Linked DNA regions of Homo sapiens. The protein of the gene in region 3 purifies or fractionates together with the protein of the main gene of each other region. This does not show direct contact. Each region holds a gene or a part of one and is shown on either strand. Other genes may lie near its edges.

Region 1 (7,233 bases), on a different chromosome or scaffold from region 3:
CCAGGTTACTTCTCAGGTCTATTTGTTTGATTTGGGGCTACCTCCCAGGTGAGCGTGGAGAGGGGATTACCTCTCTGGGTCCGAGGCCAGGTCTCGGCTCTCCCAGCTGGGCCTGGTACTGGTTCAGAGCCCTCTTGGCAGCCTCATCCTCCGGGTAGAAGAGCAGGACACTCAGGACATTTTCTATAGCCTGGGACAGATTGCCCACTGGAGAGGGAGCGACAAGGTCAGGGGTTGGGGGATGAATACTTAGAGCACATTGATCCTTGGGGCAGAGGCAGTGCTGGAGAAGGTGGTCTCCAGAGGCCAGACAGCTAACTCCAAGAGCCCCCTTCCCACTGGCAGACAAGTTCAGCTGCCGGTTCTTTCAAACACTGGTGCAAACATACCTTAGCTGGAGAGTTCAAAGAAGAGCAAGAGGGGGGAAAATAAAGGAAGGTGAGAAGCAGCAAGGCAGAAGGAAGCCCATCTCCTGAGCTTGTCACAGGCGCCAAAGGAGGGCAAATTAGAGTCCTTGTGAAGTGATGGTTCCCATGCAGCCCTGACAGTGAAACTACAAATCCAGAGACAGATGGGAGGGATAGAGAGATGGAGCTCAGGATAGCAGCAGAGGCAAATCTTCACTCCCCGTTTCCACCCTTCCCCAACTGACCCTGAGCATGGGCCTCATGTAGCCGCCTCAGCTGGTTGGGAAGGAAGTCTGGGACAGGGAAGCTGCGACCAGGGCGTGTGGCTGTTTCCCCCACACAGCGTTGCCGGCACTGCAGGACCTGAATCCAGTGTCCTGCAGAGGAAACCCATAAGCCATTCAGCTTGTTCATGCCCCTCCCTGGGCACCGACCCACCCCCTCACACACGGGACCCTTACCTGCAATGGCCTCATAGAGGCCCCCCTGGCTCGCAGCCCCATCCTCCTCTTCTTCAGCCCCCTGCTGCTCCTCAGGCCCCTCACAGTCAGCACGGCAGCTCTCCATCTGGGCCAGGCTCCCCTGAAGAGCCTCCTCTAGCCTGGGCAGTGCCAGTCCTGCCTCCTGGCGCCCCAGTAGCTCCAGGCCAGTGTCATAGGCTGCCTGTTGGGGAAGGGAGCAGTCAGTCACCTAAGATCCAGGGGTTGCCAAACTGGGAGGTAGAGAGGAGAGGGGTGTTGGTCTCATTTGGGGCAAGGACTCCATGTCCCTCTTCACCGTGGAGAAGAATAAGGGTGGGCCTCAGAATCATAATGTTAGAACATCAGATTTCAGTGATCATCCAGGAAGGAAACGAAGTCCTAGAGAAGGACTCCCAGCCAGGGTCGCTGAGGATCATTACCCCATCTGTATGCTCAAGCAGCACAACGCACAGTTTAGTGAGGCCTGTGTATCCAGCCAGGAAAAGGCTGGTGGCAAGACAGGGGTGGTGCTGGGATTCTCACCCAGTGTGGGGGCGTCTCCAGGTCCCGGAAGCTCTGGGGCCGAACTCCCGACATTCGTCTGTACTTAGCCATGTCCTCCCGCATCTGCAGGTGCATGGGGTTTGCTACAAAGAAGGTGTGTGCTGCCGCAGCTGCCAGATCCAGCTTCTTCAACTGAGGAGGCGAAGGGAGGAGGGCATCAGAGCCCTGGGACGGGGGGCAGACCTCTGCCCCCTGGCCAGCCTCCCCACCCTACCCCAGACACACACTCTGGGTGCCCCAGAGCCTCATGGAAGACTGGCCAATCAGAACCGCCCACCGCCCGAACTGCAGATCCCCTAGAGGCCAGAACGTTGGGACTCTCAGAAGGCTGGCACCGAGGGAAAGGGGATCTAAAGACGTCGGAGTTGGGTGGGACATGGGTCTCAGGACTTCAGGACCTCAATTTGGGAGACCAGGTGGAAGTGATGGCTTAAGTGAGGTGGGGAAGTGGGGGAGACCTCAGCGACCAGCAAAACCCGCAGGTCTCTAGGACCCTGAGCTGAGGTGAGTACAACCGGCGCCCCGCTTCCCCAGCCACGTAGGCAACTGCTGCGGTACCGGCGGCTGCGGCGTGCTGTCCCCTCCCCGCCCGCAGAGGTCTGGCCTCGGAGGACCCCAACCTTGCCTCCGTCTGCTCCTTCCTTTCCGAAGCTACCTCCTGCCCCAAGCGAAGGTTCACACTCACCACCACCCCCGACACACACACACACCCACGCACACTTCCCGTCCGAGAGCCGGTTTCGCCCCCACCGCCTCCGCTTCATTCCTAGGAAGAGGCGGCCCTGTCCCTCCATCTTCGATCTGCTCCCGTCCCACCTCACGACCTCCCCGCCCCATTCCCATTCTGCTCGCACTCCCCCTCGGCTGCTCCTCTGCGATCTCAAGAGGTCCTCGCGGTCGCTTAGCCAGCTCCTACGCAGAGGCCCGCGGTACGCTCCCCAGCCCCGTGCGGGGCCCGGGCAACAGCATTCCGCCTACTCCTGGGCAACGCAAAGTAGGACAGCGTCGTGGTGAGGGCTGGGACCCTCGGAGCTGCCCGGCCCGCTCCCCACCTGGTAATAGGCCCTCTGCAGGTAGTTGTAGGGCTCCCGACGGCGGAAGGCGTCCCGGAGCGCGCTCCCCACGCGAAGCCGCGCCGCGCCCCCGGGGCCCAGCCTCCGTGCTGCGCACTGGGTCAGGCAGTCTGCGCGGCGGAGCGCTGCACGGAGAAGCTGTCGCTCCCAGGACCCCTGCGTGGGTCCCGGCCCGGAGTCGGGCTCCGGGGCCCCGAGAAGCACGGCGGGGAGCGCGGCGCCCGGATCGGCCGCGCAGCTCGCCCCGCAATCCAGCCGCACCCGGCCCAGCGCCGCCTGGCTCCGCAGCGCCTCCCGCAGCAGCGCCACGGCCGGCGCCCAAGCCCCGGCCGCGTAGGCGCGCAGCCCGTCAGCGTAGAGCAAGTCGGGGGCCTGCGGGGGCGCCCCCGGGGACAGCTGGGTCAGGCCGGGGGGCTCAGGGGACCCCGGGGGAGGCAGCAGCAGCAGTAGCAGCAGCGGCCGGAGGAGCCGGAGCATGATGTCGGAGCCGCCGGCAGCCGAGGGGAAATGCGGGAGCCGAGAGGGAGGGAGAGGAAAGGGGGGAAGGGGAGGGAGGGGGAGGAAGGAGAGATGGAGAGGCGGAGGGAGAGGGAGAAATAATGAGGGAGGCCGAGAGAGAGAGAGAGAGAGAAGATGGGGCTGAGACCCGATGGTGGGAGAGGCCCATGTGAAAAGATGGAGAGAGAAGAGTGCTGAGTGGACAAAGCTGGTCTAGTGTGGAATAAGAGGGAGAAACTGGGAGGAGGAGGGCAAAAGGCGGGAACTGGAGCAGGCCTGGGCATCCATGAAGGATGACTTCAGCCCCAGCGGTGACTTCAGCCCCTGAGGTCTGGGGGTAACTACTGGGGCTGTGTTCCCTCCACACACACGCTTCTGGGTCCAGAAAAAGGAGTGTGGACGCCGATCCCCCCCTCGCCCCCCCCCACCCCCCCACACTCATCCACCCCTGCACTCCCACCCCCCCACACTCATCCACCCCTGCACTCCCACCCCCCCCACACACTCATCCACCCCTGCACTCCCCCACACACACACTCATCCACCCCTGCACTCCCACCCCCGCCCACACACACACTCATCCACCCCTGCACTCCTTTGGAGAAAGAGCTTTAAAATGCAGCAAGGAGGAGGTGTCCAGGCCCGGGACACTGCATCAGCCCCAAAACCTTTCCTGCCCATAAAGTGAGCCCCTGCATGGATTTGAGGTTAGAAGGAGAGTTGGGCACTGGGGCTGGAGCCACGCTCTAAAACCACCTCAACAAATCTGAACAGAGATCCTTCATACCCCAACCAACGAAGATGTGTGTCCTCAAGCCCCGCCCCCAGCAGGATATGCTCCTCCCAGCCTTCCCTGTGCGAGGCTGCCTGGTGGAGCATGTGATCATTTCTCCATGTGTCCTTCTGTGCCTCTGTCTGCTGCCCCTGCTCTGTCGTGTCCCCTGTGAGCCACTCCACCCTCCAAGCCCCTTTCCACCGCAGTACACTGGACACTGAGGTTTCCATGGCAACACTTCAGACTTTAATACATATTGCTAGGGGTGATGGAAGCTGAGTAGGGCATCTGGTCACTTGGATGGGAGAGAGCAGGGCCTTCTGAGCCCCAAATCTAGCGCCCGTCTCCCCAGAGTCTGGAGGCAGCTGCCCTACTCTCGGCCAGAATGAGGTGTTACTCACTCAGGCTTTCTCCTCTGAGTTCAGCAGGCCTGCTTGGGCTCACAGGGTCAGCTGGGGAAAGATGGGGTTGCCTGGGCCCCAGGATCCTCCCCAAGCCCTTGCACTTTCTTCACCCCCCGTCAGGGAGCAGCGTCTCCCTGCGCTTAGTCCCAAAGGAAGTCCAACGGCTCTGCTCTCAGGGGACCCAAGGGAGAGTCGGCGGGGTGAGAGGCCCAGTGGCCGGGGCCGACGAGGAGAGTGCCCTGGTGAGGCAGTCGGAGAAGGCAGAGGTGTCTCATCGATGAAGGTGGTGATCTCCTCCCGGAAGAAGCCAGGACCCCGTGGGGGTCCCCCACCTGACCCCAGAACCCCACTCTCCAAGAATTGGCGAAGGCTGGCCAGCCCCCCACCTTCAGCCTCTTCCTCGTCCTCCTCGTCCTCCAACCTGTGTCTTTGTCCCAGGTACTCAGGAGGACCCCCGAGGGCCCGGCTCTGGGCTGGGAGGACCCGGATGTCATCAGAGGATGACCACTTGTGCAGGAAGGAGCCTGGTTCCCGAGGGGTAGAGAAGATGTTTGTCTCATCATGGGACAGACGCCGGGATAGGGGGACCTGGGAAGAGGAGCGGGTAAGACCTGAAGGTGCTGCAGGGACAGAGGCAGAGGCAGGAACCAAGTGGGGACTCCGGAAGATGGTGCCACCTTCTTAACCTTCAAAACGTTTGCTCCGGTGGGCAAACCTGGCCCCACGAGGTCTGAAGGGATGCCTCTCTTGCTATAGCTTTCTTTCACCCAGCTCTATGGTGCCCTGAAAGCCAGGGCTAGGGAAGAGGGGATTGGGGTGCCTAACAGACACTGGAGAAAAGTGATGAGCGGCACCAAGGGTAGGAGATGTATCCCCCAGTTCCATACCTGTAAGTAGTGGACTCTCTCAAGAGGAGGGAAGAGCATGTGCCTTCCAGGCAGCAGCTTCACCTGGGCGGGGTCCCGGCTCCCTGGTCCTGTGGCTCCGTTAGCATCAAAGCGAACTTTGCAAACTCGGCCCTCTGCATAGTCGTCACAGCCCCCATCTAGGAGAGAAAATGGGCAGAGTGGTTACAGGTAGGGAATGCCTACCGCGGCCTCCCACCACTGCCTTTATAAGCTCCCAGAGACCCCTTTAGTTCCCATTAGCATGTATGTTCCAAGAGGACAGTGAGAGTGGCTAGCATTTGCTGCGTTCAGTGCTAAATCCTGAGTGGAGTGCTTCATACATATAGATGAAGTTATTGAAACAATTGCCTGCACTCCCCCAAGAGCCGTCCCTATAGCTGGGGGGCCTCTCTCGGGAAGCTCAGGTTCCCCATAGTGCCAGAGCTGGGCAGTGTGGGTTTCTGGAGGGGAGCCTAGGCCCAGTGAAGGGAGCCCTGAGTGCTGCGGGAAGCAGTGAGTGGACAGCAGGGTGCCTGCTTAGGGAAAGGGGAGCCCAGGGTGGTGCAGATTCTGTCCAGTAGGGGGCACTCCAGGGCAGCCCATCCTCTGGCTGAGAAGGAGCGGCAGAAAAGGGAATAGACAGATGTCCAGGAAAGCCAAAGCCCAGCCCCTCCTCTGACCGTCATCTCCATCCTCCTCAGACATGATGGCCACGCATTGCTCCCACACTGTGCGCACGTCGGCGCGGTAGCGCTCGCAGGACCAGATGAAGGAGGGCAGCAGCAGCGTCTGTGCCATGGAGCACCACAGCACAGCCAGCACCATCCAGGGGGGCGCCGAGTCCGACTTGAGGGAGAAGAAGCTCACCACCTGGGGAAGGGTGGGAGCGGGCTGGGTCAGGGCCAGAGCTGAGGAGCCCACCTGAACCCCATATCCTAGTGCAGCTGGTGGGCAAGACGTCAGAAGTAATGCCTGATCCCTGTGCTCCAACAGAGGCGAAGCCGGAGGTGGAGATGGAGTGAACAGAGGGAAGGGACTGACTCAGAGGAAGGTCGGGGAGAGTGCTGGAGACAAAGCCCTGCGGTCAGGAGGGAGAGGAACAGAGGTGGACCAGGAACCGTAGAGACAGACAGGAACCCAGGAACAGTGACTAGATGGGGTGGTGGGGTGAGCCCTGTGGGATTTCCAGCCAAGAGTGCTCAGAGACCATGTGGCAGCCCGAGGGAAGGAGGGAATGGAGAGTGGAGCCCAGCGGCTGGATGAGAGGTCTGCGGCTGAACCGTGGAGCTGCAGGATGGATGACGGAGCTGGAGGACAGGTCGTGGAACTGAAGGACGGTGATGGAGCTGAGGAGTGGGAACTGAAGCAGATGCTGGAGCTGGGGTAAACAGGGTAGTGGGAACTAAAAGACAGATGATCAAGATGGGGGCCACAAATGGAGTGGGGGATGGACAGAGGAGAGGAAGATGGATGATGGAACTGGAGGAGAGATGACGGAGCTGCTGTATGGCTGATGAAGTTGGAGGTCAGGTGATGATGCTGGGGCCTGGATATTGGGGAGAACAGGTGGGGAGGACCCCGATCTCACCAAGATGGGCACCCCTGTGAGTGAGTCATAGAGAAAGACGATGGCGCTGACCAAGTTGGTGACCTGCAGGGATGTCTTGGCAGACTCCGAGCCATCCAGCGAGGACCGCCGCTTCCCTCGGGCATCCTCCACCACAATGGCTGGTACCTCAAAAGCTGGCCGGGTACCCAAGGCCCCTGGCCCACCCGCTTTGGTCCCCCCACCACCCCCCACTCTCCGGGCCTGCCGAGCCCTCCGGGGCCGGGCCCACAGTGTCTGGTAGAAGGTGATGGCCACACAGACCAGACCCATGACAATTCCCCCAAGTAGCAAGAGGCTGAAGCAAACGCCAAAGCCGAGGCCGATCTTGGAGACTATGAACTGGCAGCCGCGGGCATAGTAGCGCTCGCCGTTGTTGTGCCAGCCAATGGAGGGCAGTGTGGAGAGGATGAAGCTGACCATCCAGATGCCCATGACGGCATGCAGTGCCTGCTTCTTGGCGTTGCTGAGGCGGTAGTTGACGGGCCAGCGCACCATCCACATGCGATGGTAGGAGAGGGAGGCGACCGTGAAGCAGGTGGCCAGCGCCAGGGTGTA
Region 2 (7,015 bases), on a different chromosome or scaffold from region 3:
TATTATAGTTCAGAGTAGATCTTTCATTGAGGATTGCCCTCAACAGCTTAACTACTTTCCTCACATTGGTGTCCAGCTAAGTACCTCAAGTTAAAGGTAAGATCCCTTTACCAGCAGATCATCAGTGCGATGAATTAGGTTGTTGTAAATTATGGCAAGTGTCTGTGTTGCAAGAGACACGTATTTGGGTCATGTGACCAGAAGCATCTAATGGTCTAATTCTCTTTAATGCAAAAGTCGGTTTATGAAAGACTTGGTTTAACCTGTGTGGTATAAACTTACTGAAAATCAGATGTAGTGAGAGTAGTTTGAATGCTTGTAGTCTCAGTATCTGAAATAAGTGTTTTGAAATTGTTCCTGGGCCTAAAGTATTTGAATGTTTTTATGCTGAAGAGCTGATAAGATTGCATGTTTAACAATGTTAGATAAGATATCGTATATTTTAAGTATTAATATTTATGATGTGATACGCTGGAAGCAGGAAATCCTTTCATGGTTTAGTGTAGTATGTTAAAAATTGATATATGTATCGAGTCCTAATGTCAGAATTTTTAAAATCAAGTCTGTTTTGTTTTGACACTAAATTGGTGAGAATTGAATGCTGTCAACGTTAAATATGAACATAATTTCATATCTTCTAGGAAAGTGCTTTAAGTCCTTTTTGTAAGCTTGGGAATGTATCCACGGAAAGGATTTTTCATAGACGGAATTTCCAGAAGTGAATCATAACTACTGTTAGAGCATAAGCATGCATGATTGTGCTGTGTAGATCAGTTTTGTTGAAAGTTTAGATTGTTGTGTTTGTCAATTATAATTTAATGTTTCAGTTTTTATATGAAATGTTGTAAATGTATACCTTTTTAAAAACTTGAAGTTCCAATAACTTAAAGCATTGAAATATAAAATGAGGTAAAAGGTGTTTTGAATTTAGTAAAACTGTTATTTAATGCTTAAAACTTAATTGAATTGTATAATTCTCAACATTAAGTTGCATAGATATGTGTTCTTAAGTTGTTGAATTCTTAATGCATCCTGTGTTCAGCAAGTTTTTTTTAATATATACTGTACCATGGGTGTGTTAAGAATAGTTATACTTTATAATAATGGAACTTCATATTATTGCAATGCATATTTAAAGAGTACTTGTTGAAAGCATACCATTCACCTAAAGTTAAAAATTCTGGTTTATTTAAAGCTATAAGAAGAATCATTTCTGGGCTTGTGATGTTAATATTGCCCCCCTACTGGGGTTATTTGTCCTTGGGTTGAAGGGTTGGAAATCGTGCCAAATGGGATAACATTGCCGGTGGACTTCCAGGGGAGGAGTACGGGGGAGGCCTTCGTGCAGTTTGCTTCACAGGAAATAGCTGAAAAGGCTCTAAAGAAACACAAGGAAAGAATAGGGCACAGGTGGGGATGGATGGTTGGTTGGATATGTCACTTTTCTTATGGTAAACAATTAAATCCATATTCTCTCTGCTTAAAAGAAGAAATTAATGTTTTGTAGTCCTAGGTAATTGATGTTTTGCCATGATTTCCAAACTTGTGTCAGTCCCACGTTACACGCAAACTAAATTTTAGGTTTGAAATTTGTCCCTAGTTAATTGGTCTGCTTGACAATTTTGTGAGTCTTATTAACCCCAATCAATAGAGTTGAGAGACTATGGCTTTAAAAAATTAATGCAAACCTGGCTTTAGCTGTAATAACACCCACCTAGAATAAATTAATATTACCATAAGAAAATGTGATACTTTCTGATCTTGTTTTTAAAGTTGAAATGCAACAAACTTTTTCTTGCTGTATATAAATATTCTGCATAGTATTAATAAGCATAGCTTTCAAGAAATTGTCACAAAAGGTTTTATTCTCTTTGCTTGTGACTATTTTTCATTGAAGCATGCGCTTACCTATGCTGATTCTTACTAAAAGCATAGGCTGGGGTATTTATTGGCGAAAGGAAATGTGTAGTGTGGGCTGGACTGTTGGTGGAGGCTGGCTTTTTAGCCCACTTGCTATACATGCTGCCAATGGATTTAAGACTTGAAATGTTGAAAGTTGAGTGGAATTATTTCCCTCCTAAAACATTTATTTACAGTACTCCTCTCTACCCCTAAGGTTGGGCTCTGCCTCAGAGGAGTGAGTTTTTTTTTTTTTTCTATAAAGTTTACATTGTCTTACTATTTATTGAGTGAATTTCTGGTCATTGCCTATGCAAATATAAGAAATCTGGCTTTAAATATTAGTCAGTTTCATGGCTATGACTAGATTGTTTTCTTGTATAACTAAATACCTGTATAAAATGAACTAATGTTTTCTCTCCCCTCCCTACCCCTTCCTTATGAACAATGCTTTAGGTATATTGAAATCTTTAAGAGCAGTAGAGCTGAAGTTAGAACTCATTATGATCCACCACGAAAGCTTATGGCCATGCAGCGGCCAGGTCCTTATGACAGACCTGGGGCTGGTAGAGGGTATAACAGCATTGGCAGAGGAGCTGGCTTTGAGAGGATGAGGCGTGGTGCTTATGGTGGAGGTACGTGAGGATTCGTAAGGTTCGGCAAGTCGTCTGTTCCTTTGTCTAGGTGTTTTATTTGATTGATTGTACTTTGTCTTTCAGGCTATGGAGGCTATGATGATTACAATGGCTATAATGATGGCTATGGATTTGGGTCAGATAGATTTGGAAGAGGTAAGGTAAGAATTGAATTTCTCAGTTGAAGGATGCTTACACTCTTGTCCATCTAGACCTCAATTACTGTTTTTCAGGAATGTCTGATCACAGATACGGGGATGGTGGCTCTACTTTCCAGAGCACAACAGGACACTGTGTACACATGCGGGGATTACCTTACAGAGCTACTGAGAATGACATTTATAATGTAAGTGTGAGATGAACTCACAAGTCAATATTTCAGTATGGCAGTAAGTCAGCCTTATTCTATAAATGTGAGCACTATGTTAGAAATTTTAGGTTTTTTTTGTAACGTTAGAAAGTTGGTTGAATTCTTTGAAATGCCTTGTGTTGTAGTTTTTTTCACCGCTCAACCCTGTGAGAGTACACATTGAAATTGGTCCTGATGGCAGAGTAACTGGTGAAGCAGATGTCGAGTTCGCAACTCATGAAGATGCTGTGGCAGCTATGTCAAAAGACAAAGCAAATATGCGTAAGTGTGATTGAGCATTTGTGGGCTCTTAACAGGTGATTGTGTGACTAACATTTACAATAGAGAAATGGAAAAATAAGGATATATGAGAAGTTTCCTCTCCAGTAATAGATTAATTCTTGGGGGATGCGGGGGCAGTGTGTTGAAGGTTTGGGTTTTAAAAATTAGTATAACGGATTTGTGATATGCACATCTTGAAGTGTATATCCTTAATTGACAATACAGATGAATATGTAAAGGCTAGATTTTGGAGTTAAAGTAGATCACCTAAGAGAAGTAGCTAGAATTTCTTTGCCAAAGTATTTGAAGTTCACAGATCTGCTTGTTTAAAAACTTTATAAAAGTGCTTATTCTGTTTTGTTTCACCAACAAACATTTTCAAACTTTTTTTTTCTCATTTCAGAACACAGATATGTAGAACTCTTCTTGAATTCTACAGCAGGAGCAAGCGGTGGTGCTTACGGTAGCCAAATGCTAGGAGGCATGGGTTTGTGTAAATATCACTTTAGTGTCTTTTTTTTAAGCTAACCTTGTATGCCTTTTCTCTCATTTCAGAACACAGATATGTAGAACTCTTCTTGAATTCTACAGCAGGAGCAAGCGGTGGTGCTTATGGTAGCCAAATGATGGGAGGCATGGGCTTGTGTAAATATCGTTAGTTTTTTTAAAAACCAAAACGTTTATATCTGTATAAGTCAATTATAAGTTAAGTTAATCTATTTATTTAATAAGTTTAGCATAAGAAACTTAGGCAAAGCAGTTTCTTGATATTTGAGTTTTGTATCTGGCTTACTTAAATCCTTGTGAGTTATGAAGTTCCTTAGGATAGATAATTCAAATTAGGTTTAAGTAGTCTTGGGGGAGGGGACTACGGAGTGAAACTACTTAAATTTTCTAAGTATAAAGTTTAAATCAATAGCAAAACAGGATTAAGATAAATGTGGGCATAATTAGGTGTATTGACATGCCTTTGATGTATCAAACTGAGGGGGAACCCACTAAATCCAGTCAAGCAGTTTCATAAGATCTTCACAAAATGCCTCTACTTACGGAATCATGTTGATTTTAGTCCTGCTGATGTGTGTACCGTTAGCACTTTGGTTTATCAATATTTGACTGGCTCAAATGATGGATAGAAGGGTGGCCTGGTTATAGACAGTAGGCAGAAGGAGGCAGAGGGTTACAGTAATGTAAGATCAAGACTGGAAAATGATAGCTATAGAATTACAAGCCCGGTACCACCAGGTACCACATCACATAAGAAAAAAGGTTCTAATGTTTTCTTAACTTAACAGCAAACCAGTCCAGCTACGGGGGCCCAGCCAGCCAGCAGCTGAGTGGGGGTTACGGAGGCGGCTACGGTGGCCAGAGCAGCATGAGTGGATACGGTAAAGCCTGTTTGTTACTGTACTTAGAGTAAGTTATGGTAAAGCCTGTTCATTACTGTACTTAGAGTAAGTTATGGTAAAGCCTGTTACTGTACTTAGAGTAAGTCGCAGGCAGGTGCCTTTAGTTGGGAAGATGCAGGCTCCTTTCGGTGAAATTGGGTTATGAAATGTATGCTTTCAATCCAAATGTAACTGTTTTTACTAGCTAATTTTCAGAAACAATCATTGGGAGGGGGAAGTGTTCTTTGAATTAAGAACTAGTCATTGCAGCTTTGGAATACTGTCGAGCCAGAAAATATCTGCCTCCATGTATTAAAACATTAAATAAAGTTGTTCACTTTTTTGTCTTTTGGTTAGCATTAAGTCAGTTTTAGACAGAGGGAGAATTTGAAATAGTAGAATGGTGGTTGGGTTCAGGATCGTATTTATTAGTCAGTTAACCTAGGATTGGTTTTATTTATTTTTTTTCAATTGGTCTAAAGAATGGTGATTTTGGTATTATAGTCTTACCCTACAAAATCCTTTTGCAGACCAAGTTTTACAGGAAAACTCCAGTGATTTTCAATCAAACATTGCATAGGTAAATATTTTCTCAAAAAATATAAATTCCCAATAGCAAATACTGATATGTTGTAATAATGCTTTCTATAGCAGTCAATGGCTCTGACTTAACTCCATGGAGGCTGCCATTTGGGCACAGTGAGTTGCCTTTAGTCCAGCTTGGTTGTCTCACTTCCTGCCCACCATGAATAGGAAAAGCAAGAGACTTCCCCTGTGCTCCCTTTTCTCAAATGCCATTCGAGGGACACATTGTGAATGTTTATGTTAAATTTTTTTTAAAAATGCCTTGTTTAGCTTTAAAAATACGAAGTAATTTTGCAATTTTTGAAAAACACTAGTTTTCCTTTAAACTTAATTTTTCATGTTGATCCTGAAGAATCCGTTAAAATGGTAGCACAAGAGTCTGGCAAGTTGGTACTGCAGAGAAAAGGGGTTAATTGAGGCTTGTTTGGAGTCGGGATTCCCCTTTCCCAAACATGCGTCTCGCCACTTGGACAGCAGCCATTTGTACTCGTATACTTTTTAAACTTTTTCTTGGAATACTATATTTTATTTGACTGGTAGTCTGATATTACTCCTAACTTGTCAAATTGATCTCTTTGCAGGTAACCAAGGAGCAGTGAACAGCAGCTACTACAGTAGTGGAAGCCGTGCATCTATGGGCGTGAACGGAATGGGAGGGTTGTCTAGCATGTCCAGTATGAGTGGTGGATGGGGAATGTAATTGATCGATCCTGATCACTGACTCTTGGTCAACCTTTTTTTTTTTTTTTTTTTTTTCTTTAAGAAAACTTCAGTTTAACAGTTTCTGCAATACAAGCTTGTGATTTATGCTTACTCTAAGTGGAAATCAGGATTGTTATGAAGACTTAAGGCCCAGTATTTTTGAATACAATACTCATCTAGGATGTAACAGTGAAGCTGAGTAAACTATAACTGTTAAACTTAAGTTCCAGCTTTTCTCAAGTTAGTTATAGGATGTACTTAAGCAGTAAGCGTATTTAGGTAAAAGCAGTTGAATTATGTTAAATGTTGCCCTTTGCCACGTTAAATTGAACACTGTTTTGGATGCATGTTGAAAGACATGCTTTTATTTTTTTGTAAAACAATATAGGAGCTGTGTCTACTATTAAAAGTGAAACATTTTGGCATGTTTGTTAATTCTAGTTTCATTTAATAACCTGTAAGGCACGTAAGTTTAAGCTTTTTTTTTTTTTAAGTTAATGGGAAAAATTTGAGACGCAATACCAATACTTAGGATTTTGGTCTTGGTGTTTGTATGAAATTCTGAGGCCTTGATTTAAATCTTTCATTGTATTGTGATTTCCTTTTAGGTATATTGCGCTAAGTGAAACTTGTCAAATAAATCCTCCTTTTAAAAACTGCACTCTGTCTTGTCTGTGCTTCAGTGTCATGTGGACTGAGTCTTGGTGCTCTGTGCCCACCTGGGGCCTAGGGCCACATCTCTGGCTTGGCAGTTGAGGCTGTTGCGTAGATGTCTTCAGTCTTCCCTCCAGTGCAACTGAAGGTAAACTCGTCTTTGGGGCCCTGGTGGAAGGGCTGTATGTCATTTGGCTGCACAGGACCTGATCTGAACTGCCTGTAACTCATTAAGCACTTGCACAAAACAAAGGGGGAGGCGCCAGTGCCCTCACTGCATGCCTGCATGTCTTTGAGGCCTTCATGCTTGGCTGGGAAGGTGCCGGAGGCAAGGGAGGTGTGATGAATATGTGGGTTTCTTCTAGCTCATAAGCTCATAGGTTTGTTTTTTTTTTTGAGGCAGAGTTATATTCTGTTGTCTCAGGCTGGATTGCAGTGGCGTGATCTCAGCTCACCTGCAACCTCCACCTTGTGGGCTTCTGCCTCAGCCTCCCAAGTAGTTGGGGTTACAGGCGCCCACC
Region 3 (7,021 bases):
GAAGGGAGGGTGGCAGGTGGCCTACAGGGGTCCTGGCTGTTGTAAGACTCTGAGAGGGAAGTCCCTCCGACTGCAGGATCACTGGGCCCCTTTGCTCCCAGCCCCTATGTGCCCACCCTGGCCTCACCTCGGGGTTGCTGAACACCTCCCAGAGGTCGTTGTGCAGGTGGGTGGTGCGGTAGCTGTCTAGGGAGAGCAGATGGCCAAGGGTGTGCCGGTTGGTCAGGAACATGAACACATCCTGGGGAGGACAGGCCCGGTGGAAGAGGCGCTCCCCCACCCCTCCCCTGCCCTCACCCCTCCCCTGCACGCTCCCAGACGGGCAACAGTGCAGCCTCCTCCACCCGCCGAACTGAAGTTCCCAATATCAGAGACCAAGTGCAGTCACCGCTATGTCCCCAGGGCCCAGCCCAGGCCTGACACTAAGAATGTGATCAGGGAAGTCTTCCCAGAGGACTGAACACAGAATGAAAGAAAAAATGCGTAAAAGAAAAGGAGCGTGTTCTGGTCCTGAAATGTTGGTCACAGGGGAAAACTTCATCTTGCTGCATGTTTAAAAAAAAAAAAAAAGTCACAAAAATATATGGGGTGGGGCGCAGAGACAGGGTGAGGTGTCTCTCGGGCACATCACTTGGAGTACCTTTAGGTGGAAAGTTCCGTTTTCTTTGGGCTATTCCAAAAATGTAAATAAAATAGATGGTATAAAAACCAGGTCAGCTAAAATGGTCCCTGCAGACCCCTGAGGACCAGCCCTCGTGCCCGACGGCCCCCATTCCTCCAGCAGGCCCTGGTGGCTTCCGAGATGCCCTGCTAGAATCTCTGGAGCTCCCAGGCCTACGGTGACAAGGCGGCCCACCATGAGGGTCAGAGCTGGAGGCCCACCTTCCCGCCTGCCCCATCCAGAGGGCGTCCTGTGCTGCCCGCTCCTGGCTGACCTGCTGCCGGATGTTGGCACAGAAGGCCATGTCGGGGTCCAGCTTGCTGTGGTGGAAGAGATCTGAGGACTGCAGCTCACCCCGCAGGGCACTGCCCTTGATCAAGTAGATGTTTGAAATATAGGGCACATTCCAGACACCACTGTGGGAGAGACAGAAAGCGGGTGGGGGTCAGAGGCTGGTGGTGGGGAAGATGGAGGGGGTCACAGGGTGGTGGTGGGGAGTCATAGCCTGGAGTCTGGGTGTGAGAAGGGAAGTCACAGGCTAGGGGGGCACAATTGTGCTGATTTGATTCCCCCGCCCTGGACACATGGGCCTATTTGTCAGGAAGTCCTTCTGTGTGTCTAACTGAAGTCTTCCTTGCTTCAGGTTCAACAGGAATTTGAGGGTAACAAGAACAGGAATAATAGGGAGGGAGCCCCACAAGCCCAGGCAGAAGCCAGATGAAGGTGTCCCCCACCCACCCCCACCCTGCAGGTACTCACACACGCCGCCCCTGCACAATGTCCACGTAGTCCTCGGAACGGGCATAGTAGCCATCTGCACTGAGAGCCCCCCAGAAGTTCGACCACAGCCTCCCATGCCGGGTCATCAGCGGGGCAATGACGTTCCTGAGGGAAGGGAGCACCTCAGTAGGAGGTCGCTGCCCACTGGGAGTAGGAGACAGCACTAACCAGGGATGGGGGGAGGTAGGTGCCCCTCAACCTGCACGCAGGGATCCCCAAGCACCTCACTGAGACAGGCAGTGCCTTGGCCGGGGTGTCGGGGGTTTGGCTCTTCTGGTACCTGCTCCCTCCCATGGGGCAGCCAGGAGCAGACAGGGCAGGACACCTTCTCTATCAGAACCTGGGGTATCAGGCTGGGGATCCACAGCTCTGGGTAATAGGTGAGGCCAAGGAGGAGGAGGAAGAGGAGGAGGAGAAAGAGGATGAGGAAGACGAGGAGGAGGAGGAAAAAGGAGGAAGAGGAGGAAGAGGAAGAGGAGGAGGAAGACAAGGAGGAAGACGAGGAGGAGAAAGAGGAGCAGGAGAAGGAAAAAGAGGAGGAAGAGGAGGTGGATGAGGAGGAGGAGGAGGAAGGCAAGGAGGGCTGCCACCCCAGGACCAGGCCAGTCCTGAGCAGTGCTGGGTGCAGACGGAGCAGCCTCACTTGTTCTGTTGGATCAGCAGCCGCAGGCTGTTGGGCTCGGTCAGGGCCACGTCAGCATCCACGCTGAAGTAGTAGGTGCAGCTGCGGTCCTGCCGGCACAGGTCTCTGCAAGGAGGAGGACACAGGGTCAGTGCACCTGATCCTGGAGCTACTGGTGGCTGCTCACATCTGTGACCACAGTCTGGCTTCACCACATATCAGCCAAGGGGCTTTAGAGAGGTCACACCAGCAGCCTCAAAGGTTCCTCCCGACTCTGAGTCCCAAACCCCTGGACTGCTGGGCTCTCTCACCCAAGGCCCAGAGGTTGGCAACTGGTATCAAGTGCCCTGAAAATCCTGGTACTGGGAAGAACACAGCCCACAGGTGCCTACATGGCCCAGGGTGGGGAGTAAGCTGGGGCTGCCTTTCTGAAATGCAATTTGGTAACTTGTACCAAAAGCCTTAAAAATCTGTGTTACTTTTGTTTATCTGGTACAGGACTCAGCAAACGAGGGTCTGTGAGTCAAACTCTGGCCCTGCCTGGTTTTGTACAGCTCATGGGCTAAGAACAGCTTTATGTTTTTCTTTTTTTTATTTTTATTTTATTTTATTTTTTTGAGAACGAGTCTCACTCTGTTGCCCAGGCTGGAATGCAATGGCACAATCTCAGCTCACTGCAACCTCCACCTCCCGGGTTCAAGCGATTCTCCTGCCTCTGCCTCCCAAGTAGCTGGGATTAGAGGCGTGCACCACCATGCCAGGCTAATTTTTGTATTTTTAGTAGAGACAGGGTTTTACCATGTTGGCCAGGCTGGTCTCGAACTCCTGACTTCAGGTGATCTGCCCGCCTCGGCCTCCCAAAGTGCTGGGATTACAGATGCGAGCCACTGCACCCGGCCTTTTTTCCTTTTTTAGAGATGGGGGTCTCACTGTGTCAGCCAAGCTGGAATGCACAATCATAGCTCACTGCAGCCTCAACTTCCCCAGCTCAAGCAATCCTTGGCCTCCCAAAGTGCTGGGATTACAGCCACTGCACTTGGCTGATTTTATGTTTTTAAGTTGTTTCAAGAAAAAAACAAATCGGCAGGGCGTGGTGGCTCACGCCTGTAATCCCAGCACTTTGGGAGGCTGAGGTGGATGGATCACGAGGTCAGGAGATCGAGACCATCCTGGCTAACACGGTGAAACCCCGTCTCTACTAAAAATACAAAAAATTAGCCGGGCATGGTGGTGGGCACCTGTAGTCACAGCTACTCGGGAGGCTAAGACAGGAGAATGGCGTGAACGTGGGAGGCAGAGCTTGCAGTGAGCCAATATTGCACCATTGCACTCCAGCCTGGGTGACAGAGCGAGACTCCATCTCAAAAAAAAAAAAAAAAAAAAGAAAACAAAAATCAAAAGAAGATGTAAAAATTATGTGAAGGTCATCACCAGGTGCAGTGGCTCATGCCTGTAATCCCAGCACTCTGGGAGGCTGAGACGGGAGGATAACTTCAAGCCAGGAGTTTGAGACCAGCCTGGGCAACATAGCAAGATCCTGTCTCTACAAAAAATAAAAATAAATAAATTAACCAGGCGCAGTGGCTCACACCTGTAATCCCAGCACTTAGGGAGGCCAAGGCGGGCGGATCACTTGAGTTCGGGAGCTTGAGACAGGCCTGGAAAACATGGTGAAACCTCGTCTCTACTAAAAATACAAAAATTAGCCAGGTGTGGTGGCAAGCACCTGTAATCCCATCTACTTGAGAGGCTGAGGCAAGAGAATGGCTTGAACCTGGGACGGGGAGGTTGCAGTGAGCCGAGATCGCGCCACTGCGCTCCAGCCTGAGTGACGGAGTGAGACTCAGTCTCTAAATAAATAAATAAATAAATATTTAAAAATTAACTGGATGTGATGGCACATGCCTGTAGTCCCAGCTTCTTGGGGGGCTGAGGCAGGAGGATCACTTGAACCCAGGGGTTTGAGGCTACAGTAAGCTATGATCCTGCCACTGCACTCCAGCCTGGATGACAAGAGTGACACCAAGTCTCAAAAAGAAAAAAAAATAAATGACATGAAAGTCAAATTTCAGTGTCCATAAATGAAATTTTGCTGGAATGCAGCCTCTGTGCTACTAGGGCAGAGCTGAGGGTTGTCACAGAGCCGGCAGAGCCAATTTGCAAAGATTTATGATCTAATCCTTAGCAGGAAGTTTGCCAACCTTTGATCTGGACTGTCTGACTCTTCTACAAGCAACACAAATTACTTCTTTCTTTGTTTTTGTTTTGCTTTATGAGACAAGGTCTCGCTCTGTTTCCCAGGCTGGAACACAGTGGTGCAATCATAGCTCATGCAACCTCGACTTCCCGGGCTCAAGAGGTCCTCCTGCCTCAGCTTCTTCAGTAGCTGGGACCCCAGGTTCAAGCCACCACACTTGGCTATTTTTTTTTAATTTTTGAAGAGATAGGGTCTCGCTATGTTGCCCAGGCTGCTCTTGAACTCCTGGCCTCAAGCAATCCTTCAACTTTGGCCTCTCAAAGTGCAGGGATTACAGGCATGAGCCACTGCTCTCGGCCTTTTTTTTTTATATATAATAAAGTAAAACATTCAAGGTTGGCTCCCTAATAGTCAGCCTTTGTCTACTTTTGCCCCCAGTCCTTCCTCTTTCTCTGATTTGCTTCCTGAACCCAAATAACATGGCTCAGCCCTGCCCAGGAGCCCCGGGGGTTGGCAGGACAGAGGCTATTTCCCCTTTTGACAGATGGAAACTCCAAGGCCCAGAAAGGGGCAGGAACTTGCTAGAGCACACACAGCCTTCTGAACTCCTGTCACTCAGCCTGCTGCTCCTTACCACAGCCACAGCTCCCCTGCCCCCACTGTCAGTGGAGAGTACTGTGGCCCACAACTCACGCGCCCATGTTCCTGGCATCTGCATTCGCCATCCGCACCTCAGGGCCCACCAGCTTCACAGACTGGTACTCGCTGCCATGCTGTGCCAGGAACTCTTCCACCTGAGCCTTGTGGTGCTGCTCCTGGGGTTGGGGATGGGGAAGGGGATGCGGGGGTGAGGAGGAGGACACAGCTTCCACCCAGGGACTGTAGCACCTCCTGTCACTGCCAGGCTGTGCCCCTTCATCTCTGGCACCCCGGCCATCTGCTTTCCTGTCTCCAGACCTTTGCCCATGCCAGCCCTGTGCCAGGAACACCCTTCCCTGGCCATCCTTTGCCCATTCTCCTCTGACCAGGTCAGGCCTCCTAAGAGCCTCTGTCATCAGGATAGAGCTCCGCCACCACGCTCAGGATCCCACATCCAGAGACATTGTTGATTCCTGGGTGTGGCCCAGAGATCCACTTTGTTACAAAATGTGCCAGGTGATCCTCAACTTCGCTTTGAAAAACAACAGTCCAGGCCAGGCACAGTGGCTCACGCCTGTATTCGCAGCACTTTGGGAGGCCGAGGCGGGTAGATCACCAGGTCAGGAGTTCAAGACTAGCCTGGCCAAGATGGTGAAACCACGTCTCTACTAAAAATACAAAAATTAGCCGGGCATGGTGGCAGGCACTTGTAATTCCAGGTACTCGGGAGGAGGCTGAGGCAGAGAACTGCTTGAACCCGGGAGGCGGAGGTTGCAGAGGCAGAGAACTGCTTGAACTTGGGAGGCGGAGGTTGCAGTGAGCCAAGATCGCACCATTGCACTCTAGCCTGGGAGACACAGCAAGACTCCATCTCAAAAAAAAAAAAAAAAGGAAAAACAACCATCCAGCTGGGTGCGGTGGCTCATGGCTGTAATCGCAGCACTTTGGCAGGCGGAGGCAGGCAGATCACGAGGTCAGGAGATCGAGACCATCCTGGCCAACATAGTGAAACCCTATCTCTACTAAAATACAAAAAATTAGCCAGGCACGGTGGCAGGCGCCTGTAATCCCAGCTACTCGGGAGGCTGAGGCAGGAGAATGGCTTGAACCTGGGAGGCAGAGGTTGCACTGAGCTGAGATCACGCCATTGCACTCCAGCCTGGGCAACAGAGCAAGACTCCGTCTCAAAAAAAAAAAAAAAAATACAAAAAATTAGCCAGTTGTGATGGCGCATGCCTGTAGTCTCAGTTACTTGGGAGGCTGAGGCAGGAGAATCGCTTGAACCCAAGAGGCAGAGGTTGCAGTGAGCCGAGATCGTGCCACTGCACTCCAGCCTGGGTGACACAGCGAGACTCTGTCTCAAAAAAAAAAAAAAAGAAAAGAAAACCAATTTGACTGCCACCAGGTACAATTAGGAAGGTAGGAAGGATTAACAGTGACAGGGATGGAAGTGAAGATGACAACAGTTAGAAGCAACTAGATGCGTCCTGTGCACCAGGCACCTTTTACGAACTTCGCATGTCAGCTTGCTTAGCCCTTGCAGCAATTCTGTGTGATTGCACAATTATTATCCCTATTTTATTTTATTTATTTATTTATTTATTTTTATTTTTTTTGAGACGGAGTTTTGCTCTTGTTGTCCAGGCTGGAGTGCAATGGCGCAATCTCGGCTCACTGCAACCTCTGCCTCCCAGGTTCAAGCGATTCTCCTGCCTCAGCCTCCTGAGTAGCTGGGATTACAGGCATCTGCCACCACACCCAGCTTAATTTTGTATTTTTAGTAGAGGCAGGGTTTCACCATGTTGGTCAGGCTAGTCTCGAACTCCCGACCTCAGATAATCTGCCCACCTGGGCCTCCCAAAGTGCTGGGATTACAGGCATGAGCCACCGCGCCCGACTTTTATGCCTATTTTATAGATGAGAAACTAAAGCACAGAGAGGTTGAGTAATGTGCCCAAGGTCACACAGCCAATAAAATAGCGGCGCTGGGATTCAAACTCACCCAGTCTGACTCCAAAGTTAACTCAGTGATTTGGGGACACAGTCCACTGGTGATTGTCATTTGGCCCAGATAAGCTAGATTCGGTGAGACCCTCAGAGGTCTCGGGCTACCTTGTGAAGC
Region 4 (7,439 bases), on a different chromosome or scaffold from region 3:
GAGCGAGATGTACGAGTAGGGCGGCTTGGCGTGCGGGTAGCTGCGCTTGAACGTCTTGGCGTCGCCGCCGCCGCCCGCGCGGCTGCGGCCCAGGTTGGACGGCGCGTACGCCATGGGGCTCATGCACGGGTTCATGGCGGCCGCGTAGGGGCCCAGGCCATTCATGGAGGCCGCCTGCTGCGCACCCATGGCGCCCATGCCGCTCGGGCTCAGCGCCGTACCCATGGCCGTCACGCCGGCCGCAGTCATGCTGTTCATGGCGCCCGCCGAGCCCCCCGGCATGCCGGCTACTGCGCCGGGACTCAGGCCGGCCCCTAGGCCCGGGTTGGCATAGGACATGTTGAAGGACGCCGGGGTCATGTTGCCGCTCGTAGTCATGGTGTTCATGGTCATGTAGGTGTTCATGGAGTTCATGGAGCCCAGGCCTGAGTTCATGTTGCTGACCGGGACGGAGGAGTAGGCCTGGAGTGGAGACAGCGAGTGAAGAAGCCCCGGAGGGCGGGGTTAGTGGTGGGCACTGGAGGGCGGCCGTCCGGGACCTAACCCGGGGGCAAGTGCAGAGCACTTTGCAGAACACGGGACGCCCCCACCCGGGGCAAATGGCTAAGCGCCCTCCCCAGACCGAGCAAAGATGTCTTGCACGGCAGGGGGAAAATCCTAGCGCGGCAGGCATGAAAGATAAACGCTCACAGAAAATATGACCCCAGGAAGATGTGTAATCGCCTTACACGCCAGGCTCAGGGGCTGGCTTCCAGGGCCCCCTCATCGCCTCCTCCATCCACGCCAGGCGGTATCCCAAGTCTCCACCCCAACCAGCCTCGGCAAAGCGCCCTTTGGGGGGAAATCGTTGATAGAGCAAATCACCTATGGACATGGGACCCCCTGAATCATCTGTTTCCCAACAAGTGGCTTTATTGTCCTAGGGGTTTTTGCCTATGGTGACTTTTTGTTGTTTATTGTATTTAGAAGTAGTGTTTTCTACCTGCTTGTAGCAACTGTAATGTTAAAAGGGAAGCAAACTCAGAGTTAAATAAGTTTTGGAAAAATAAAACTAAAAGTAGATCCATAACAGAAAGGGCTGGGAGGGGGTGCTATAATAATCTCAAAGTGCTATATGCATTTTATTTTAACATGACTTTACATGTACACCTTTGCAAGCTATTTAGAAACTCGCATTAATTTTGTCACCACTTTACAGTCCCCTGTTTGAAAAATTTGGTGACACAGTTTGTCAAAATAAATCTTTTTTTTTTTTCACATGCTGATGTTGCTGCCGATGATTTCAACGCCTGGCTTTGAGATTCCGTGAGTAGTCTTGAATAATTTAAAATTCGAAAATCAAATTCTACTTATTTTCTCTTAATGCTATTGTATTTCCTAATTCTCAGCTTTAACATGTAAGAAAGTACTTTCGCTAGGGGTCTTAATTGAATGGTGGGGTCGAGATGACTGCGTCAGAATTAAATCTCTGGAAGACCTCTGAGCTCCTTTTAAAATCATCAACAAGCGAAAATCCTTATCAATAGCGATGTGGGAATGCATTAGGTACAGTATTTTAAACATACAAAACCTAGGCATATTAAAAAGCACTCCTCTGGTAATTTAATAAGGAATAATGATGTCCTTAAGTTTATTTTAATCAGCAAGTATGACTCAATTTGAAAATATGAGAACAAATAGATTTAAATAGGAACACCCAGTAAACTATGGTATGCAAATAAACTCAGAGGTAAACTTGTGAATACATAAATCTAAATAAGTCAGTTACCATCAAAATATTACGTGATCCTATATTTTTCTGTCCACGTCTTAAAAGTATTTTTTACCTTGGGGCTTTATTTTCTTTCCCTCTTCCCAAGATTATCCAAGGCAGTTCCAATACGCGTTTTCAATAATGGTAATTAAACTTTTGGAGGGTAATCGCCAGCTGTTTCCAGAAAAATACTTTTAATAGGTGGTAGTCCTCCCTGTAACTGGTTTTCCCTGTAATCCTTTTGTGCACATTGTAAAAATAACCCCCATGAACGTGCCACCAAGGGGACAATGAAGAGAAACAGGTTCTCGGCCCAGAGTTGTGAAGAAGATTTTGGTCGCACTAGCGCCACCCAGCGGTTTTAGAGAAGGAGCACACTTCTCCCCAAATAGGGCTTTTGAAGAACAAGTTTTACAAAATTTAGAAATCGTTTCATTATTGAGACACCCAACTTGGCGGCAGAGCGCTTTAATCAGAAGACGTCTGCGAATTAAACGGTGGGACGAAGAGGTCGCCTTGTGGGTATGCTCCGGCTTTCTCAGAGTTGCTTCCAACTCGCACCGGCGCTCGCCCGCCCGCTGCACCCCGGGCCCGGCTCCTGCTCCCGCTCGCTGCTGGGAAGAGGCAAGCGCTTCCTAGAGCCGCTGTTTTCAAAGCCCGGAGTTTCCTAAAACTCCCTCTCCGGCTGCGAGAGTCGGGACAGAGCAGGGCAGCAGGTCCCGCTTCCAGGCCCGGCCAAGGCCCGGCCGGGGCCACACCGGCGGGCGGGCAGCGGTGGCACCGAGAAGGCGCCCCCGGCCCGCCTGCCTGCCTTGCCTGGCGCCCACCGCTCCCCGGCCTCCCCCGGCACGGGCTCCAGCGGCGCCCCACCGGCCGCCCGCCTCGCCTTGCCTCTCACCTCCTGCGTGTCTGCGTAGTAGCTGTTCCAGTCGCTGGTTTCATGCCCTTCCATCTTCACAGTTCCTAACATCCTGGAGCCACCCTGCCCAATACAACCATCCAGCCCTGTGCGAAGCGACGGGCGGCCGCGCGGCGCGGGGCGGGGGAGGGGAGCTGAGCAGCTGCAGTCACCCGAGCGCCCGCGCGGGCCCAACGCCACCCGGGCGAAGAGGAAGCCCAGAGCTGCGGGGCGCGGCGTGCGCGGCGGCGGCGGCGGCGCGGCGGGCGGGGGCAGCGCCGGGGGCAGGCGGCTGCCGCGGAGCGCGGCGCCGGGGAGCGCCTCCGCGGGAAGTGAGCGGGCTGCCTCTGCGAGGCAAGTGCAGTTGAGCTGATGTGGATCTTACGTCGCTTGAGTGCCCACCTCCTCGTCCTCTCCCCATTTGTCCGCCGCACAAAGACGCTCGCACCTACAAAGCCCGAGGTGCACCTGCAAGGCGGCCGCCCGCCAGTCCGGCCGCCGCGCCTCCCGCCCCGCCGCTTCACCGCTGCGCGCGACCCCTCCCCCGCGACCCCTCCCCCAAGCGGGGCCCTCACTTTGTTTGCAAAGCAGTGTAATTGGTTTAGGCCCGGAGGCTAGGGAAAGAGGGAAATGGGGAGGGAGGGGGTGTAACCCCCTTTGGAAAAAGAAAAAATAGGCGGGGCCAGGCGGGCGGGCGGGCTAGGGCTCTGGATCGGAACCTCGCAGCCGGAGAAGGCCGGGGGCGGTGGCGTCGGAGACTGGGCTTAGAGACCTTGTGGGATAACTGACCCCGGGGTCCCTCCCCAGAGGTACACGCCACCTTCCGAGCGCGGGCTGCGGCCCAGTCTCGCGCCCCTCCTGCTCTTTGCTTCCTCCCTCCTGATTCCTGACCCAAAGTTCAACCCCGGGAGACTGGAGAATACAGACTTTTTTTTTTCTTTCCTCCTGAGAGCTTCAGACTAGAAAAGGGAAAAAGCCCCACTTTTGCTTCGTCACTAGAAACCGGGTCATCTGAGTCAGCCGAGCCAAGTGACGTTAGGCCGACCCGGGCCCCGGGCTAGCAGAGCGGAGGCGCTGCCACGAAACTCGTACCTGCGGCTAAGAGCAGGTGAGTCACAGCACCGGTTTATATCTTTATGACATAACTTTTTTTTTTTGTTCCGCCTCGGTCCGCTCCTCTCCCCTTGTCATCTGTAGCGACCACAAAGAGGAAGAAACTGAGAGCAGATGTCTGTGTGATAGGGCAGGCGGACCCAAGTCGGGCCGTCCTCCCCCTGCCGGGCTCCTCCTCCCGCCCCCCTTCAGCCGCTTCAGGGAGTGAGCTGGAGACGACCGTCTGGTTTCTGATAGGAAAAGGTCAGGGGGAGGGGACATCTCCCATAACACGCGCGTTAGCTGGGAGAGCAAGGGCCTGGGCGCGGGAACGCATCTGCACTGCGAAAGAGATGCCAGGCAGAAGCCCGAGACTGCCCGCAGCGGCGCTTGGTCCTGTCTGTGACCCGGAGGGTCCGGGCTGAGATCTCAGGGGCTCGCTTGGTTCCTAATCGGTCCTGGACGTCGGTGGGAGAGTCTTCCCAACGCAAAGTCTCTTTACTCTCATGAGGCCCTGGGTGGTGGTTGCCCACTTGTCCTGGGAGAGAGAACAACTGAAGTGACCGGGTGATAGGCAATTAGTTGGTGATAGATTGGGAGATGGTGCGTGTGTTTTGAGTGTGTGACCGTTTGTATATTTCTGAGCATGTGTGACTGTGTGTGTTTCTGAGTGTCTGTGACCATGTGTTTGTTGTACTGCCTGTAGAACCACTAGGTTTCCTTAAGTAACAATAAAATAAAATCTAAAGTAATTAAGAATCCGCAAAATCTTCTTGTTTTGCAAAGTTTTTAAAATGTTATTAATCTCATTTTAAGAAATGTGTTTTAACTTGTCTTCCAAACAGATACCTTTTTCCCTGTGCTTTGTTCTTTTAAATCTCTTTTACTTGAAATCTGGCAAGAGAATCACTTTAAATCCCTGAACCAAACAAATCTCTTAAGTCAGCAGGGGAGCAGAGAGGGTGAAGATGTGCAGTTAAGGAAATAAAAAAAGATAAAAGCATTGGATTACATTTTTTTTTTTTTTTTTTACAAAAAGGGTGGGGGGGTAGAAACGTCACATCATAAGGAAAGGAATGAGTGAAATTAAATCCACCTGGAACTCAGTAGGGCAGGAACCCTCCCTAATGCAGCCTGCTCCTGTGACTGCAAGTTGTCCCATCAGTTTGTGTAAATGTATCTGCGAATTGTGTGTCAGAAACTAATTCTTTTGTGCAAAGTTCCCATTAGTAGCTGACTTTAGTTCCATTTGTAAAGTATACGGATGCTTAGCTTCCTGGGCCTGATCCGGGGGACTTTCAGTGCTAATGAGCTTCCTTGTTCCTTCTGGAGGTGATTCTCCAATACCCTCTTGGCTCTTCAATAACACCGAGCAAGACTAGGTTATTTTCTACCGAGAGTAACAATTTATGGATAGTAATAGCTTTTATAGTGCACAAAAAAGTTGGCGCTTTAAGTAGGGGAAAAACACTGTCACCTTAAAGGGGGGGTCAATTACAATATCAAATGTTCTTTTAGCCCACTTCCCAAACCTACTAAGTCTCATATTTTCAAAAAAAAAAAATTGACTTAAGAAAAAAAAATCCACTTTTCATAGCGTGATGGCCGAAGCGGAATTTCTCCTAGGCTTCTTCAAAGCCCAAGACCGGTGATGCAGAATGGACTCTGCCAGCTTCGGAGACTTGATCCAGGTCAGGGATCCCAGGTTCGCAGCCGGGGGATTTCCACGAAAACAGCGCCTCCTGTCGTGGAGAGGGAAAGCTGAATTTTCCCGCAGGCGCCTCCGGGGAGCACCGCCAGGCGATACTGGATTGAACTCCGCACGCATCCCAGTCAGGGATTTAGGTTCTTAGAGCCGAGGCCAAGATGGAAGGAGAGATGGCCGTTCGTCCAGCTCCCAGCCTCTCTCCATCTCAGTGGCCGCATTGCAAGATACCTAACAAATTTAGGAGGTGAGGTTCTAGTGTACCCAGATGCCAGCCAGTCACTTTCCCTGAGGTTTAAAAGCGAATCAGCAGGGTCGTGTTGGGTCTTTGACTTGGAAATGCATACATACATACATAAAGTAATGCTGCTGTCTGGGAGTTGCTGGCCAGTCGGTAGCCAGGTCCAGCGGCTGCAGCCTGCTCTTTTCCAACCTCTTTTCCCAAATAGGCACCTACACCATTGGAAACTGTGCTTTGCAAGGATTGTGCTGCTCGTTGGAGGAAACCAGGCCTGTCTTCAGCTGTGGGGAGGATGGGTGGACTCGGGGCAGGGTACCCGCGAGGGCAGGCACGTGGCGGCTCCTGCGGTGTCCCGGGTTAAACTTGCCTGTGTTTAAGACGGGTCTGCGACAGCTTGGGGCGGTCCAGGTCGCGGGGAGGGCGGGCTCCTCAAGTGGGGGATCCGCGGCAGTGAGGACTGTAGGGTGCGCGGGTACTCCGGGTAGCCGCCAGCGGAGGAAGCGGCTCCGCCCTTCCCGGAAGCTGCCCTTGCTACACCCGTGGGGCCTGCTCCCGGCGCAGTCCCGCAGTACCTGAGCGGCACTCGGTCCTTTGACCACGCTTGGCTGCCTCAGCTTACACTTCCCAGCAGGATCTGGCTGGGAGCCCCTTCCTCAGATATTCACCAGGCAGGTAGAAGCAGAGGGAGACGACGGCGAAAGGTGGAAGGAGAGGCCGCGGCCTCGGGCCTCGGGCCCCGGGCCCAGACGGCGGCCTCTCGCGGCGACAGGGTCCTTCCTATTTAGCAGGACCGCAGGGTTGGCAGACAGCAGGGCCTGGGCCGGCGGGGCTCTGCGGTGCCCATTCGAGTCTCTCCAGGGCTTCCCTCTGTGGCTGTCCCTCGCCTGCCCCCTTTCCTTGCCTACCCTTCCCTGGACGGGGTTGTTGTCAGGTGACGGCTTCAGCAACCCAGCCATGCTTGGTGTGGAGTGGTTCGAGTTCCTCCGCGGGCCCCCACCCCCCACCCAGATAAGAAGCTTAAGTCCTCCTTCTGCAGGGGAGAATCGGATGCAATGAAACTAAGACCTGTGGTCGTTAACGCGGTTCAAAGCCGACCCCAACTGGGACACGGCTCAGCTTAGAAGTGAGGAAGGCCTGGGACGCTGGAAACAAGGGGTCACACGTGCGTGTGCCTGGCCTTCGCAGGTGGATGTGTGCGCCGAGCTGGGGAAGGGGCCAGGGAGCCGCGAGACTGCGGTCCCCCGCGAGAGAGAAGTATGGGCCTGGCCAGGGTTCGAACTCCGTTCCTTCGCTGCCTTCCTTTTATTTTTCTTCCTCATCTTCCTTCCTCTCTCCCTTGGTTCCATCATTAAATCTTTAAGGGATTAATTCACAACTCTGTAGTAGGTAGGGGCCCTGGGACCACTTGACGGGCCTTTGCAGGCAGTTCTGTACAGAGTCCTAACCCGTAACGGGCCTCAACCCCGGCTGTGTGTGCGTGTGCTTGTGTCTGTGTGTCTTTGTGTGTAAAAGCAACGCATAAACATACCCAGGGCTTTCACTTATTTTATTGAAGCAAACAAACAAAAACAGCCACTGGGTTTGTCTTTTCCCCTACTCCTGCCTGAGCGCCGCCGGGTTTCTGAGCTGCTCCGGGCGCGGACCTAGCTCACCCGCAGCCGGATGTCGGAGCCGGAGCTGCTCCCCACCCGGCCTCGCCCGCGGGCGACAAAACCGTCCCTCTGGCCACGGGAGAGCATCGCCTTGCCAA

Evidence for each region.
Region 1: the proteins of PLOD1 (region 3) and P3H3 purify together in Homo sapiens (affinity purification with mass spectrometry; 2 studies listed by BioGRID and IntAct, with this or other methods). This does not show direct contact.
Region 2: the proteins of PLOD1 (region 3) and HNRNPH1 purify together in Homo sapiens (affinity purification with mass spectrometry; 3 studies listed by BioGRID and IntAct, with this or other methods). This does not show direct contact.
Region 4: the proteins of PLOD1 (region 3) and FOXA1 purify together in Homo sapiens (affinity purification with mass spectrometry; 3 studies listed by BioGRID and IntAct, with this or other methods). This does not show direct contact.

What each region holds. Positions count from the first base shown.
Region 1 is NC_000012.12:6,824,190-6,831,422, reverse strand, and holds the start of P3H3 (prolyl 3-hydroxylase 3 precursor), read right to left. Parts: upstream 3,017-7,233; 5' UTR 2,983-3,016; coding exon 2,485-2,982; intron 1,565-2,484; coding exon 1,412-1,564; intron 1,071-1,411; coding exon 869-1,070; intron 785-868; coding exon 653-784; intron 208-652; coding exon 71-207; intron 1-70. Other genes in the region: GPR162 (probable G-protein coupled receptor 162), read right to left, coding at 4,219-4,770, 5,070-5,227, 5,750-5,939, 6,658-7,233. UniProt on the Homo sapiens protein: Part of a complex composed of PLOD1, P3H3 and P3H4 that catalyzes hydroxylation of lysine residues in collagen alpha chains and is required for normal assembly and cross-linkling of collagen fibrils.
Region 2 is NC_000005.10:179,613,664-179,620,678, reverse strand, and holds the end of HNRNPH1 (heterogeneous nuclear ribonucleoprotein H), read left to right. Parts: intron 1-1,271; coding exon 1,272-1,410; intron 1,411-2,355; coding exon 2,356-2,534; intron 2,535-2,618; coding exon 2,619-2,690; intron 2,691-2,746; coding exon 2,747-2,880; intron 2,881-3,029; coding exon 3,030-3,165; intron 3,166-3,568; coding exon 3,569-3,628; coding exon of another isoform or gene 3,629-3,658; intron 3,659-3,720; coding exon 3,721-3,810; coding exon of another isoform or gene 3,811-3,819; intron 3,820-4,460; coding exon 4,461-4,553; intron 4,554-5,083; coding exon 5,084-5,133; intron 5,134-5,719; coding exon of another isoform or gene 5,720-5,838; 3' UTR 5,839-6,501; downstream 6,502-7,015. UniProt on the Homo sapiens protein: This protein is a component of the heterogeneous nuclear ribonucleoprotein (hnRNP) complexes which provide the substrate for the processing events that pre-mRNAs undergo before becoming functional, translatable mRNAs in the cytoplasm.
Region 3 is NC_000001.11:11,958,700-11,965,720, reverse strand, and holds part of PLOD1 (procollagen-lysine,2-oxoglutarate 5-dioxygenase 1 isoform 2 precursor), read right to left. Parts: intron 5,076-7,021; coding exon 4,954-5,075; intron 2,190-4,953; coding exon 2,085-2,189; intron 1,547-2,084; coding exon 1,421-1,546; intron 1,078-1,420; coding exon 936-1,077; intron 242-935; coding exon 128-241; intron 1-127. UniProt on the Homo sapiens protein: Part of a complex composed of PLOD1, P3H3 and P3H4 that catalyzes hydroxylation of lysine residues in collagen alpha chains and is required for normal assembly and cross-linkling of collagen fibrils.
Region 4 is NC_000014.9:37,592,250-37,599,688, forward strand, and holds the start of FOXA1 (hepatocyte nuclear factor 3-alpha), read right to left. Parts: upstream 3,001-7,439; 5' UTR 2,724-3,000; coding exon 2,652-2,723; intron 463-2,651; coding exon 1-462. UniProt on the Homo sapiens protein: Transcription factor that is involved in embryonic development, establishment of tissue-specific gene expression and regulation of gene expression in differentiated tissues.